2 linked regions of the Homo sapiens genome follow. The protein of the gene in region 1 purifies or fractionates together with the protein of each later gene. This does not show direct contact. Each region holds a gene or a part of one and is shown on either strand. Other genes may lie near its edges.

Region 1 (6,987 bases):
AACTAAGCAGATATTTCTGCTGTGCAATGGTAGACAGAGACCTGAACTAAGGAGCCAGAAGACTTGGCTTCAAGTTCCAGCTCTTCCATTAATTGCATTTGTGGACAAGTCACTTAACTACCCCATTCCCTGAACATTCTGGATGTTTATGTTTTGTTCAAACCCATGATCACAGGCCCCCAGCCAACTGTTTTGCAAATTCATGGTCAGAAAAGAGTAGAAATGAATCAGTATAATGATGAATCAAGAGTATCATGTTGATGTAGGAAGGATGGCATCGCGATTAATCAAACACTTTGCTTTCCAACTATGCCTTGCCATTCACCAAAATACTTCCTTTTAGTTTTCAGAAAGAAAATAATCCTGTAGGGGAAAAAAAATTCCTAGCAAACCTAGCCCAGGTAAGTCTCTGTTCTCGTTCTCCCAGACATCTCCTCCTCTCTGCTCCCATGGTCACCTATTGCCGGTGCCCTCAGCTGCTATGTGGACTAGTGCAACAGGTTCCTAACTGGCCCTGCTGTCTCCACTCTTCCTCCTCTCTAGTCATCTTACTCTGCCACGATGTGACGATCATTTCCATTGAATTGCTTTAATCACAACACACCTCCCCCCACCCCCCACAAAAACCTCCCACAGCTACCCTTGGATACCAAGTCAAGTCCAAATCCCTTAATCCAACCCTCTAATATCTCATTCCAACCTGCTTTTCTGGTTGGACTTCCTGTTGTGCTGCTTGCCTTCCCACCTCTGTGCATTTGCTGACATCAACTGCAGTATCTTTCTCTCCATCTCTGCCCAGCAGACTCCTCATTCTCCCAATGCCAAACTCAAATTTTTTTCTCCTCTATGAAGTCTTCACATTTTCTCCTCCTCATCGCTCATCAGAAGGGTACATTTCTAGAGCACATTATCCATGACAATCACATGCTACCTTGTGTGTTATGGTCATGGACATATTAGTCTTACTCTTCTATTACTCTGTAAGCTCCTGGGGCACAGGGACCATGCCCCTTCCATCCTGGCATTGTCCTCAGCATCGTGCACACAGTGGGGACTTAATGTAGCCTGACTAAATTAGTGTCAAATGGATGCAGGGAGGCAGCATGATGTAACAGAAAGACTATGAGATTTGGAGTCAGAAGGCCAGGTAGTGGAGCTCAGCTCGGTCACTGACAAGAGGTGTCATCACTCTGAGCCCAATTCTGCATCTGTAAAACAGGCACAATGCTTCCTGTCCTATGGACCTTACAGGGCAGGAGGCAGGAGCTTAAAAAATCTAATGTGCATATACTAGGTGCTTAGCAGAAGAGCCACAATACTTAAACCAGCCTTTGAAGTTCTGCCCCCCACCCCTCTGGACATATTTTATCCCATCCAAAGGAAGATTTCCACACTACTTTGTAGAGAAGAGGGTGAAGTGGGGGAGAAACTGAGTCATTAAGACTCAGAGGAGAACTGTTTACAGACTGCAGGCCAGATGTTGATGAGGGCAAGCAGAGGTGGGGAGGAAAAAGGGCCTTAACTAAATGTCATGGTCCCACCCATGAGTCCCTCTGCAGAGGAAGAGAAGGGAACTCTATTTCCAGGCAGAGGCAAAATGAGTACTGGCCTAGAGGCCTAGGTAATAAGGATGATTCCGTTCGGCTTGTCGGCTGCCAGGTGAGCCTTCCACCTCTGGCCTCCCAGGTGAGTGACAGTGTCAAGGCAAAATCCTTTGACTATTAGCCGCCAAGACTAAACTATGCGGTCAAGACCGACTCTCCCAAATGTGGGCTGTTTGTCTAATTCAGAGCCAAGGCGATATCAAAGATGCCACTGTGCCCACTGAATGAGGAACACAGGGACCGTCCCCCCAATACAGAAACATCTCTGCTTCCTGAAATGCCATCACTACCAATTCATTCTTTCAGGCTTGGTTTCCAGTTCAAATGCAGGTACCTCTGAGCTCGGTGGAAGCTTTAAGGCTGCATTTACACCTTTAGATCTTTTCCTAAGGAGCAGCTGTTGATGTGGGAGAAGGTGGAAAAGGCCCAAATAAATGAGGCCAGTGGGGTGAAGCGGTAGGCTGAGGGGGCCGTTCTCAGCTTGGGGAGGGGAAGCTGCAGCCTCTGTCGGAGCCTGAAGTCAAGCTTCATTTAAGTTGGGGAGATGTGTGGGCAAAAATCTGCGGCCTTTTCGTATCGATGGATCGGGTCCTTTCCCCACACCAAGCACTTTCTTCTCGGGGCTTGGGTCACACAGACAAAAACACCTTTAAAAGGGTCTCTCTCTTCCTAAGCCAGCCTAAGCAAAAGTTTCCAAATTGGAGGACGGTGGAAATGGTTAGGACTCATCTCTCTGGAGAGCTTTTCATTCCTTTCCTCCAAATCCTTTGCTGCATTCCACCTCCTCGCCCGGTCCAATCCGGAAAGCCTCTCGGACCAGGGCTGCGGACCACAAAACTGCATCTTGCAGGGCGGTAACCCCAAGAGAACGTGAAAAGCATTGGGGCTGCACTCTGGGGGCCATAGAGGTGGCCCACCGCCCCGAGGGGTCCCCAGGTGATCGACAAGGGGGCCGTCCCTACTCCAGGGCCCCGAGTCCAGGCAGCAGGGCGGCGTCGGGCCGCGGCTCCCCCACCCCACCCCCGTCCGGTCTCCCGGTTCCCCGGCCCCGCCCGGCTCTTACTTGCGGTAGGCGGCGAGCTGCACGGCGCTGCAGGGGAAGAGGCGCAGGCACGCCACCGCGTTCCCCTTCCACAGGGCCCGGAGCCCCTCTGCCCGCCACACCCGGTGCCCTGTGGCCCACGGTCCCCGGGCGTGGCCTCGCACGACGCCAACCTGGGCCAGCACGGTGGCGAGCTCCAGGGGCGCGGTGAGGCTGAGGCTGAGCGTCCCCGCCAGCCCAGCGCACAGCAGCCTTTGGCCGCCTGTCAGTCGGCCGTCCCGCCTCCACGTAGCCATCGAGCCCCGACCCGGGCCCGGAAGACCGCGTGGCTCGGGCCTGGGGCTCTCCGGCCACGGGCGGAGGTGGCGGGCCCCAGGCCCCGCCCGGCATGGGGCGGGCCCGCGTGAGGGACGGGAAGCCCCGTCTACGCCCTAGCCTGGCCCGAGGCTGGTCGGGGGTGGGGCGCGAGGGCCTGGAGGGTCCGGGGTCCGAGGCCGCGGATATCATGGGCATAGTCTCCCCAGTTGGCAAGGCTCGAGTAGCGACTTTCAGTTGCGAAACAGTTACTGTTCTCTCAAGGCCCAGCCTGCTAGACATCTTGCTTCCTAAATGTTCAGTGCGCCCCCGCCGCCCCTCCCTGCCTCTCCTCTGGTTTGCCCCTTTTCTCCCTTTCACGTGCCACTTCTCTGTCTTCCTCCCCTGGCGCTTCCCTCCTCCTCCTCTTGCCTCCAACCCATTTTTTTTTCCTGCCTAACCAAAAAGCCTTGATGGTTTCCCAGTGCAGAAGGTAAAAAATTCTAACAACCACAGTTGCTATCTCTCAGGCACTTGTCAAGTACTGGGCTTTACAGACGTTCTCATGTAATCCTCAAAACGGCCCTAAGTACGTATGTCCTCATTGACAGAGGCTGTGTGGGTGTGGGGACTTGAATCTGGACTCTTGAACCTGTGTAAGATTCTTGGCTCTGCAGCTTACCAGCTGTGGGACCTTGGGGAAGTCACTCAACCTCTCTGTGTGTCAGTTGCTTTATAAAACAGAGATTATAATTTTTTCCTCCTAGGGGTTGTTGTAAGGATTAATGAACAATGACTGGTATGGGTAAGCAGTTTATATGTGTTAGTTCTGATTAGGTATTCATTTACAGGAGAGGAAACCAAGACACAGAGAGGACTTGCTCAGGCTCACACAGCTACCTACAAAGCAGAGACCGGTTTGAAATCTAGGGCGGTTTATGTCAGTTTCCACTAACGGCTACACTATATGTCTACTAGGACTGCAGAGTTAACTCCAGTAGGGACATTTTCAGTGGTTCTGTAAGCTAAGAGAACAATAGAGGCAAAGAATGGCTAAGAGAGGCTTGGCCAGAATCCGAGGATTCTTTAATCAGTTCAAAAATTTCAGAATTTCAGAATTTCTTTCTGTCTCTTTTTTTTCTAAAAAAGCCATGTCACTAATAATTACAAGGAAAGGAACTGTCAGCAGTCTGTTGGTGTGAGCAAGATGTTCCGGGTACATAGTTGTTTTTAGGCTTGTATAGTTATTTACATTTACTAACACACAATGCTATAGGAACGTTTTCTAAAAGGCATTGCAGGGTTTCTCCTTTTTTATTTTTCACTGTCAATCTCACTTGAGTATGACATTACAAGGTTTTGACTGTGAGAACTTGTTCTAGTTGCAGAAGCCATACTCTGCTCTCAACAATTGGGGAATGCTTATTTTCATGTTTTGTGAATTCTTCTGTCTTGTTGTAAGCTAATTTGATGGCTGGGGGAAGCTTGAGAAAGATGTATGACTCTGAAGACCGGAGGACCCCGACTTTAAAAGGGCTTGAATTGGAATTTGGGGATTACAATAAGGAAACCTTCGGGTACTGGTACTTCCTAAAGCCCTTTGTTGGATAACGGGACAAGATTCTAAAGCTCTTTCAGGAAGTTCGTGGGTCTGGAACATTTCATGTGATAACCCCATTGTATGGAGATTGGGTCAGCCAAGTTATGTTTTTTTTTTTTTTGAGACAGAGTCTCGCTCTGTCGCCCAGGGTGAAGTGCAGTGGCATGGTCTTGGCTCACTGTAACCTCTGCCTCCTAGGTTCAAGCGATTCTCCTGCCTCAGCCTCCTAAGTAGCTGGGACTACAGGCATGTGCCACCATACCCAACTAATTTTTTTGTATTTTCAGTAGAGATGGGGTTCGCCATGTTGGCCAGGCTGGTCTCGAATTCCTGACCTCAGATGATCCACCTGCCTCGGCCTCCCAAAGTGCCGAAATTACAGGCATGAGCCACCGCGCCTGGCCTATTTTAACCTTGAAAGTAAAATGTATGGCCGGGCGCGGTGGCTCACGCCTATAATCCCAGCACTTTGGGAGGCTGAGGCGGGCGGATCACGAGGTCAGGAGATCGAGACCATCCTGGCTAACACGGTGAAACCCCGTCTCTACTGAAAATACAAAAAATTAGCCGGGCGAGGTGGCGGGCGCCTGTAGTCCCACCTACTTGGGAGGCTGAGGCAGGAGAATGGCGTGAACCCTGGAGGGCGGAGCCTGCAGTGAGCCGAGATCACGCCACTGCACTCCAGCCTGGGTGACAGCGAGACTCCGTCTCAAAAAAAAAGAAAGTAAAATGTATATTTTTCACTGCAGGTACACTGAAGCATAAAATGAATAACACCAAACTATATATTGGATGCCTTCTGTCTTTTCATGATCATGTGCTAACCAGGTGTTCATATTTTACTCAGCCAGAGTCTCATTCATCTGCTTAGCATTGGGCACCTTATGTATATTCATCCTAAACATAAATAAATCTCCGAGGATATCCTGTATTTGGATTGTGACTTGTATACTCAAGCCAACCTTATTGCCTCTTTTTCACACTTGTTGAAAAGTCTGTGGAGAGCATAGTAGGTTAACAAGCTCCAACTTTGGAAAATGTACATGATGTGAAATTGGGGTGCTATGCTAAAAATAAATGTATGATAACTAAAAAGGAAGAGGCAGTGAGTAAAAAAAAAAATCTTAGAAGTTATGTTGCAATATAAGGAGAAAGGTGGCCAGCTGAGAGTTAAGCCCTAGGCAGCCTCTCGTTGCCCCAGTCAGGGCTTGGGAGATGCTAACAGTTTTTTAAATTCTCCAGCTTTCATTTTTCAGTTTATCTTCTCACCAACTGAAATCTCTCAGTACATTACTTTAGTTTAACTTGCTAGTATTTCTTAGAATATAATTTATCTTGTTATATTTATACTAATGTTGATTGATTCCTGCTCTCCTAATTTTCTTTTATTTTTTACTTTTTGGGAAATTTGTAAATTATAAAGTAGTTTATACCTGTTGTAACAAGACAAATAGTCCAGAAGTGTATTAAAGAAAGTTAAGTTCCCCTGCCCATGCCCTGAGGTAACCACGGTTAAGAGCTTGGTGCGTGTGTGAATGTTTTTCCTCATATTTTTTTTTCATGCTCAGACCAATAAATATTTATATGGGGTTGCTTTCTCCTCCTTTCCGCTCTTCCCTCCTTCTTACCTTCCTTCTTTCCTTCCTTTGAAACAGAAAAGAAATAATTCCTCTGGAAGGATACCCAAAAAACTGATAATCAGGTTATCTTTGGGGAAGGAAACCTGGAGACTTGGGAACAGAGGTGGAAGGGAGATTGAGTTTTGACTGTGTGCCCTTTTATTTTCTTTTATTATTTATTGATTTATTTAGTTAGTTTTGAGACAGAGTCTCGCTCTGTTGCCCAGGCTGGAGTACAGTGGCACGATCTCAGCTCACTGCAACCTCTGCCTCCCAGGTTCAAGCAATTCTCATGCCTCCCCAGTAGCTGGGACTACAAGCAGCCACCACCTCACCAATCTAATTTTTTTTTTTTTTTTTTTTTGAGACGGAGTCTTGCTCTGTCACCCAGGCTGGAGTGCAGTGGCGCAATCTTGGCTCACTGCAAGCTCCGCCTCACAGGTTCATGCCATTGTCCTGCCTCAGCCTTCAGAGTAGCTGGGACTACAGACGCCCGCCACCGCACCTGGCTAATTTTTTTGCATTTTTAGTAAAGACGGGGTTTCACCGTGTTAGCCAGGAGGGTCTCTATCTCCCGACCTCGTGATCCACCTGCCTTGGCCTCCCAAAGTGCTGGGATTACAGGCATGAGCCACCGTGCCCGGCCCTAATTTTTGTATTTTTAGTACAGACGGAATTTCACCATGTTGGCCAGGCTGGTCTCAAACTACTGACCTCAAGTGATCTGCCCCCTTTGGCCTCCCAAGGTGCCAGGATTACAGGCGTGAGCCACCGCACCCAACCCTGTGTGCCTTTTTATACTGTTTACCTTTTTCTCCTGTTTTTTTT
Region 2 (7,900 bases), on another chromosome or scaffold:
GACCAGCTTAGCCAACATGGTGAAACCCCATCTCTACTAAAAATACAAAAAATTAGCCGGGCGTGGTGGTGCACGCCTGTAGTCCCAGTTACTCAGGAGGCTGAGACAGGAGAATCGCTTGAACCTGGGAGGCTGAGGTTGTAGTGAGCTGAGATAGCACTACTGCGCTGCAGCCTGGGGGACAGAGCAAGACTCCATCTCTAAATAAATAAATAAATAAAATTGCCCATTTCTTTGCACTCCTGCCAGCATTGAATATTAGAACCTGAAATATATTTTCTAATTTATAAGGTGAGAATATTGTGTATTATTTAACATTTTTATTTTTTAAATTACTAGGTAACCTAAACCCTTTAAAATATAATAACACACACTTACACAGATATACGCATGGCTAATTACTAACCACTTTAATTTTCTCTTTAAGGAAATTTTCCCACAGACTTATTAGGGTTTTCTTATTAATCTGTGTGTACTCCTAAAGATGCAATTAAATCTTGGATTTGTTATGCAGAGTTCTGTCATTTCAGATTTTTTTTTGTCTTTTAGAATTCTGTTTGCAATATTTTTAGTTACCAGAATTTTAAAAATTTTTATGTAATCTAATCTAATGGTCATTTCCTTCCTGAGTATTCTGTTTCTTTTCTTTCCTCACCTTGAGATCACATAAATATTTGCCTATATGTTCCCCTAATTTTAAAATTTTTTTTTGTTTTTTTGAGACAGGATCTCTCTCTGCCTCCAACCTGGAGTGCAGTGGCGCAATCACAGCTCACTGCAGCCTCAACGCCCCCAGGCTTAGGTGATCCTCCCATCTCAGCCTTGTGAGCTGCTGGGACTAAAGGCATGCACTACCACATCTGGGTAATTTTTGTATTTTTTTGTGGAGACGGGGGTCTCATTATGTTGCTCAAGCTGGTCTTGAAATTCTGGGCTCAAGCAATCCTCCTGCCTCAGCCTCCCAAAGTGCTGGGATTACAGGTGTGAGACACCACGCTAGACCTTAAAATTATTTAATGTAGCTAGAACATCTTTCAGCATATAATGACAGGTAAGGGCTTAACTTGATTATCTTTTCAAATTACTACGTTTCTTACCTCCATTTATTGAGACTCCATCTCTTTTTCATTTATTTTTGATGACTTTTATCACATATGAAAGTGTACACTACCTTTTCCTGGGTTATATTGTTCTATTATGATACATTTCATCAGTAAAGCCTTAGACTATGTTTCAATAATAAATAGGTCAATTGCCCATATTTTTCTTCATTTTCTTAATTTTGTTAACTTTTCTCACCTATCATTTGTTCAATTTGTTCAGATACACTTTAAAATACTTTCATTTTAGCCTTACAGGGTAGGCGTTAATAGCCTCATTATATAGATGAGGAACTGAGGCTCAAAAAGGATAAACAGCTTGAGGTAATAACAAATCATGTCTTTTACATCTCCCCTGTCAGATCCAAACTGCTGTCGATTTTTTAGTAAAGTTATGAAATTTTCTTACCTTTCTTTCTCCTTTCCTGTCTGCCTCCCTCTAGTGGTCATGATATATATTACAATATAGTACAGTTTCTGAAGTCTATTTATTTATTTATTTATTTTTGAGACGGAGTCTCGCTCTGTTGCCCAGGCTGGAGTGCAGTGGCGCGATCTCTGCTCACTGCAAGCTCCGCCTCCCGGGTTCACGCCATTCTCCTGCCTCAGCCTCCGGAGTAGCTGGGACTACAAGGCGCCCGCCACCACGCCTGGCTAATTTTTTGTATTTTTAGTAGAGATGGGGTTCACCGTGTTAGCCAGGATGGTCTCGATCTCCTGACCTCGTGATCCACCCGCCTCGGCCTCCCAAAGTGCTGGGATTACAGGCATGAGCCACTGCGCCTGGCTCTGAAGTCAATTTTATACAGTAATTAATATACTCCTTTATAACATGAAAAGACATAGCTTTTCTTTTTAGCTTACTTTAAAATTCTTAACCTATATAAAGTTCATTAATATTTCTTTAATATTTGGGGGTCATGTATTATCAGGATTTTCTTAGCAAAGACCAGCCTCAGAAAACATTTATGAAAAAGTCAAGTGACATTACAGTGAAATTTTAAAAATTTCATAAGTTTTAAAACTGTAACAATACAAAGACCCTCCAGATATTTCTTTGTTCATTTCTTTTCCTATGGACATTATCTAAGTACTTTCATAAATAACTATCTTTATTTAGTTATTTTTGAGACAGACCCTGTCACCTAGTCTGGAGTGCAGTGGCGCAATCTCGGCTCACTGCAACCTCCACCTCCTGGGTTCAAGCAACTCTCCTAGCTCAGCCTCCTGAGTAGCTGGTATTACAGGCATGTGCCACCACGCCCAGCTAATTTTTGTATTTTTGGTAGAGATGGGATTTCGCCATGTTGGCCAGGCTAGTCTCGAACTCCTGACCTCGGGTGATCCGCTTACCTTGGCTTCCCAAAGTGATGGGATTACAGGCATGAGCCACCGGGCCTGGCCAAATAACCATCTTTAAATTTCCCCCTGTAAACCATTTCTTTTCCTCTGACCTGGCTTCACTGTCCTTTCTCACTTTTTAGTCCCTTTGTGCATTCAGTTGTCATAAAGGTGCATAGGCCAGGGGGACATCAGGGCAGTGGACCAGCCTGAGCTAACTTTCTGGCCAGGTCTGTGCCAGGCCACAGGAGGGCCACCTGATCATAATTCCCATAAAGATTTAGGACATGCTAGCAGGGGCTGGCCTCACATCCCTAACTGCCTGTTGGTTGAAGCCTTCTCAGTCTCATTTTCTTCCTTGTTTATTTTCTGCTTCTATTTTTCTGCCTTTTTCTTTTCCCCTTCTTCCTTGCCAACCCCATCATCCTTCAATCTCATCCCTCTCATTTCTTTTTCAACTGTAAGAAAAGGCACCATAAAAGTTTAACCAAGCAAAAAGAATAATAAAAAGAAAAATAATTCTAGGAAGCATTTATCAACATTTATCAAAATTATCATTTATCAAAATCAAGGGAAAGTTTTTTTTTTCTCTTGATCTGATTTCCTTAAAGGGCCGGGCGTGGTGGCTCATGCCTTTAATCCCAGCACTTTGAGCGGCCCAGGGGAGAGGATCACTTGAGCCCAGAAGTTTGGGACTACCGTGAGAATTAGACCCTGTCTCTACAAAAAGAAAAATAAAAAATTAGCCAGGCATAATGGTTCGTGCCTGGAGTCCCAGCTTGGGAGGCTGAGGCAGGAGAATCACTTGAGCCCAGGAGTTGGAGGCTGCAGTAAGCTACAATTTCACCACTGCACTCTAGCCTGGGCAACAGAACCAGGCCCTGTCTCAAAAAATAAAATAAAATGAATTCCTTAAAGACAGCAGCTGCTATATTACCTGTCACCTATAGGTAGATGTTTAATATTACCATTTATTATGTCACTTCATGATAAATGCGTTCATATTTAACACAACATGAGACAAAAATGTAAGAGGGAAAATAAAAGAACATAACCAGAAAGCTTAGGTTTATTATTCACTGAGGATTAAGGATTGTCAGAGTTGATTGTCTCCTGGATTTTGTTCAGAAAGAGAGGATAATAATACTGACCCAATTAAGTAGCATGTTGGGTAGATTAAAGTGCTTTGTAAACATTAATTAAAGATGCAGGGAGTTAGGTGAGGCCAATGTGTTATTAGAGGAAAAGTTTTCTTCCCTTTAATCAGGTATCTCTTTCTGGGGAGGGCAAAGAAATGACCTCAGGACTAAGGCATTGGGGCTCAACCCTGAGTGGGGCCAGTGACTCAGTCATTCTGTGCAACCATTTCCTTCTTAGTTTTCTGTAAAATGGGAAGCAACACAAACATTTTGGGAATCTAGGTTGTTACAACGTTTGTCATTTGAGTATATAACAAATCCTACAATTAATACAACCCCATAACTCTTGCTTTCTCCCTGCCTACTGAGTTAAACCCAGTAACATTAACTTCCACCAACTTACAAAAGCCTTCCGCAACCAGCTATTAACCTTCGGAGATATTTCCACGGTGATAGCCTGAAGAAGAAAATGCAACGAGCCATGGGGTCAAAAATTCTCCCATGAGTTTCTTCAGCTGTCTGAACCTCAGCTTTCCTGCTCTGTAAAATGGGGTTAAGAAACCAGAAAACCATTTTAAGGATTAGATGAAATAATGTATGTGGTGTATGCACATTAAATGCTGTGTCTGAGGGTACAGGTATGCAATAAGTTGCATCAGCATTATTAAGTATAAAATAGCCTCTCAAAGCTGACCATAATAAAAAACAAAAGAAAAAATTAAAGGCCAGGTGCAGTGGCTCAGGCCTGTAATCCCAGCACTTTGGGAGGCTGAAGTGAGAGGATCGCGTGAGCCCAGGAGTTCGAGACCAGCCTGGGCGATATAATGAGACCCCCCCCCCCACCCACCCATCTCTACAAAAAATTTTAAAATTAGCTGGGTGTGGTGGCATGCACCTGTGGTACCAGCTACTCGGGAGGCTGAGATGCGAGTATCACTTGAACTTGGGAGGTGGAGGTTGCAGTGAGCCAAGATGGTACAACGTGCACTCCAGCCTGGGCGACACAGCAAGACCCTGTCTCAATAAAAATTAGATTAAATTAATGTCCCATCTCTTGCAAGCTTCAGACACACATCCCTATTGCTTTTCTCCGCGTGGGTCGCTCGGCGATGGGGTTGGGGATTTTCACGGTGCTGTCCCCCAACTCGAACTTCACACCTTGACCGAGGACCCCCGGGAGGCGGCCGCGAGGTCCCCCAGCGCGGCGGGGCCCGGCCCTTTAAGCGCCGCGGGCGCGCGCAGTGCGTGCCTAAGGAGTGCGAGTTCGGGCGGCGCGAGCGCGCGGCGGCAGTAGAGCGCGCGCGGGTGGGCGCGCACAGGGAGAGCGCGCGGCGGGGCGTCCCGGAACAGTCTGCGCCAGACGGGCGGCGGCGTGAGGGCTCCGGGTCGCTGGCGGCGTGGACACCTGAGTCCCGGGGTAGGGGTCTCCCGCGAGGTGAGTGGGGCCCTAGGACTCCGGGCAGGGCTGGAGCGACGGGAGGGCGTCCTGGCGGCGGTGGCGGCGCTGGGCTCTGGCTGGGACGCCGGCGGGTCGGGCAGAGAGGGGGCGCCGGACCCTGCCTTGGCGCGCTCCTCGCTCTGACTAGGGGAGCCCGGCGCCGCCGCCGCAGAGGCCACCCGGTGCCCGACCCCCGACCCCGGGGCGTCGCTGCCTCCTCGGGGACCTCGGAGTCGGGGCGCGGCGGGGAGCGCGCTGGGTTCCGAGTCTGGGGCTATCCTGGGGGCTCAGGGGTGGAGGCGGGTTTCCCAGCCTTGGGCGCAGAGGGTCCCCGCTGTCCCCACCGTCCGTCCCCCAACCCGGGACCCCTGTCCTTTGCGCCGTGGGACCCCATGCGGCCTCGGGGAGAGGGTGCGGGTCCGACACGGCGGGCGGAGCCACCTGTTCCACCCGGGCCCCCAGGTCCTGGAATCACGCGGGGATGTGCAGGGTCTGCCCAGCCCAGCGCGGCGGGAGGGACTAAAATAGAGGAGAAAATGTGGCCCGTGTGATGAAATTGAACAAAAGGCAGTAAAATAAACTCCAGTATTTCTCCAAGGCTTTGAAAGTTTCCCAGTATTGTTTTACGGAGTCTAAATTTAAGCATGTAGTTGTTTGGTGTATTTTTTTTTTCCTTAACCACAGGAACTAACCTCAGAAAACTTTTAACTCTACCAGAACCTAGTGCGTGCAGAGCAGAAAAGTTAAAGTGAGTGAAGGAAAATGAGTGTGTGTGTGTTTTTCCACCCTAAACAGAGTAAAACGTTCAGATCTGTAGGAAGAAGGTTCTTTCTGGCTCCAATTTTAACGGAGAACATTTTTTAAAAATCGGTATTTCTGAAAGGTATCGAAAGACCAAACCAGGCGTACGTGGAAACTTGAGGGAAATACTCATAGGAGAAAACTTTATTAAAAATACTTTTTACATTATTTTTTAAAAACACTACATAAAAGTGCCCCAGCATGCACTAAAAAGTTTGCCCTCCAAGTTCCGTGTCTGAATGTTACTGATTGTTTTTCTAGGTGGAGGAGGTATTTTCGTTCATGAAGCCAATGTGGAAATACAAACAAATGCCCTATTGACTTGGGATTGGGTGGGAAGGATGGAAGTTGTCTAAAATCTTTCTTGCCAAAGTTGACAGCGTATGTATGGAATCTTGTGTGTTTTCTTGTCCAGACTAGTAATAGCCATGTTAAAGCGACTGGATTATATTCCTTGGTAACAGCACTTCAAATGAGCTTTCTTTGAAAATTTTAGATGCTGATGATTTAAAAGTAACACATTTTCTCCATTACTAGAAATCAGAAATCCAAAATTAGAGTGATATAGTGGAGCGAAGGCTGGAAAGAGGAGCGATGCTTTTAGGAAGGTCTGAGCGTGTTTGAATCTGTGGTTGCCGGGGGTGGGGGAGTTGCCCATTAATTCATTCAGGAATATTTGTAGACTGACCACCTACAGCGCGCAGAGCCGTGACTGGTCGTCCAGCATACAGTCATTTCTAGATAACAGCCACATGGCCCAAACTGATTAAAACCAGATCAAGCAAGCCTTCATCGGCAGCTGAAGAGATACCTGGCCTTGGTTCCAAAGTTCTTAGACACCCAAGGCGCCCAGAGTTGGCACTGTGTGTTGATTTGGAAGATCATCTCAGATAACTCCAGGAGTGGAGCCTGGAAACCTGAAGGGGGAGAGAGGAAGGGCCTGCGTAGAGCAGAGCTGAGAACAGGGGAGCCTCTAGAACTTAGAAGTTCAAGTGCATCTTATCTGCAGTGTTGTGGGGCAGCTGCCGGTGGCACAGAGGCCATTCGGGAGGTGCCAGGGGAATCCTAGGAGCATCCCAGAACCTGAGCTCTTTCCTTTGACGGTGAAGGCCATCGTTGCGTTTCACTTTCCTTTGCACTTGGTGGCTTGCTTCCTAGGTGCCTCTGTGCTCTAAGAAGAGGGCCTTGCAACTCCGCCCCTGATTGACTGCAGCCGTCCCCGCTCCACTCTGAGGGGTCTCCTGGCCACCATAGGAAAGCCTGTGTTCATGGAGGCACTGCCCTCTGCACGGGTTATGTCCAGCCAGTGGCATCAACAGCCTCTGTCTGCGGAACTCACAGTGAAGGTGCCGCTTTCCATAATGCCCTTGTCCCCTTTCTAGACTGGCAGCATTCATCTTGAAACCTAAGAGTATTTTAAGAAAGTTGGTGCTAGGTTTCTAATCTGTGCATTCAGGATTGGCAGGGAAGGACTGTATGGGGAGAGCATTCTGCCTTGTCGGACAGGGATGGGAGAGCTCTTCGTGAACGTGTCTCTTCGGACTAGGTATTGCCAGAGACTGTAGCACTGTGAAGAGTTCATGCTGTTTATCTTTTTTATTATAGTCAAATACATAGAACATAAAATTTACCGCTTTAAAGTGCACAAATCAGTGGCATTAAGTACATTCCATTCCCAATGTTATGCAATCATCACCACTATCAAGTTCCAGAACTTTTTCATCACTCCAAAAGGAAACCCATTAAGCAGACGATTCCCATTGCCCTCTCCCAACCTCTGGCAGCCACTGATCTCCTTCTGTCTCGGTAGACTTGCCCCTTCTGGATGTTTATACAGATGGAATCTTAAAATCTGTGGCCTCTTGTGTCTGGCGTCTTTGACTTAGCACAATGTTTTTCAAGGTCCGTCCGTGTCGCGGCGTGTATCGTTGCTTCCCTCCTTTTTATCGCCGAATAATGTTCCATTGTGTGGACAGATCGCATTCTATTTACCCATTCATCAGATGAATGACTTTGGGTTGTTTCCACCTTTTGGCTATTGTGAATAGTACTGCTATGAACCGTTGTGTACAAGTTTTTGT

What was found.
Region 2: the proteins of SLC25A43 (region 1) and PROSER2 purify together in Homo sapiens (affinity purification with mass spectrometry; 2 studies listed by BioGRID and IntAct, with this or other methods). This does not show direct contact.

Annotation. Positions count from the first base shown.
Region 1 is NC_000023.11:119,395,359-119,402,345, reverse strand, and holds the start of SLC25A43 (solute carrier family 25 member 43), read right to left. Parts: upstream 3,011-6,987; 5' UTR 2,943-3,010; coding exon 2,668-2,942; intron 1-2,667.
Region 2 is NC_000010.11:11,818,456-11,826,355, forward strand, and holds the start of PROSER2 (proline and serine-rich protein 2), read left to right. Parts: upstream 1-4,900; 5' UTR 4,901-5,015; intron 5,016-7,900.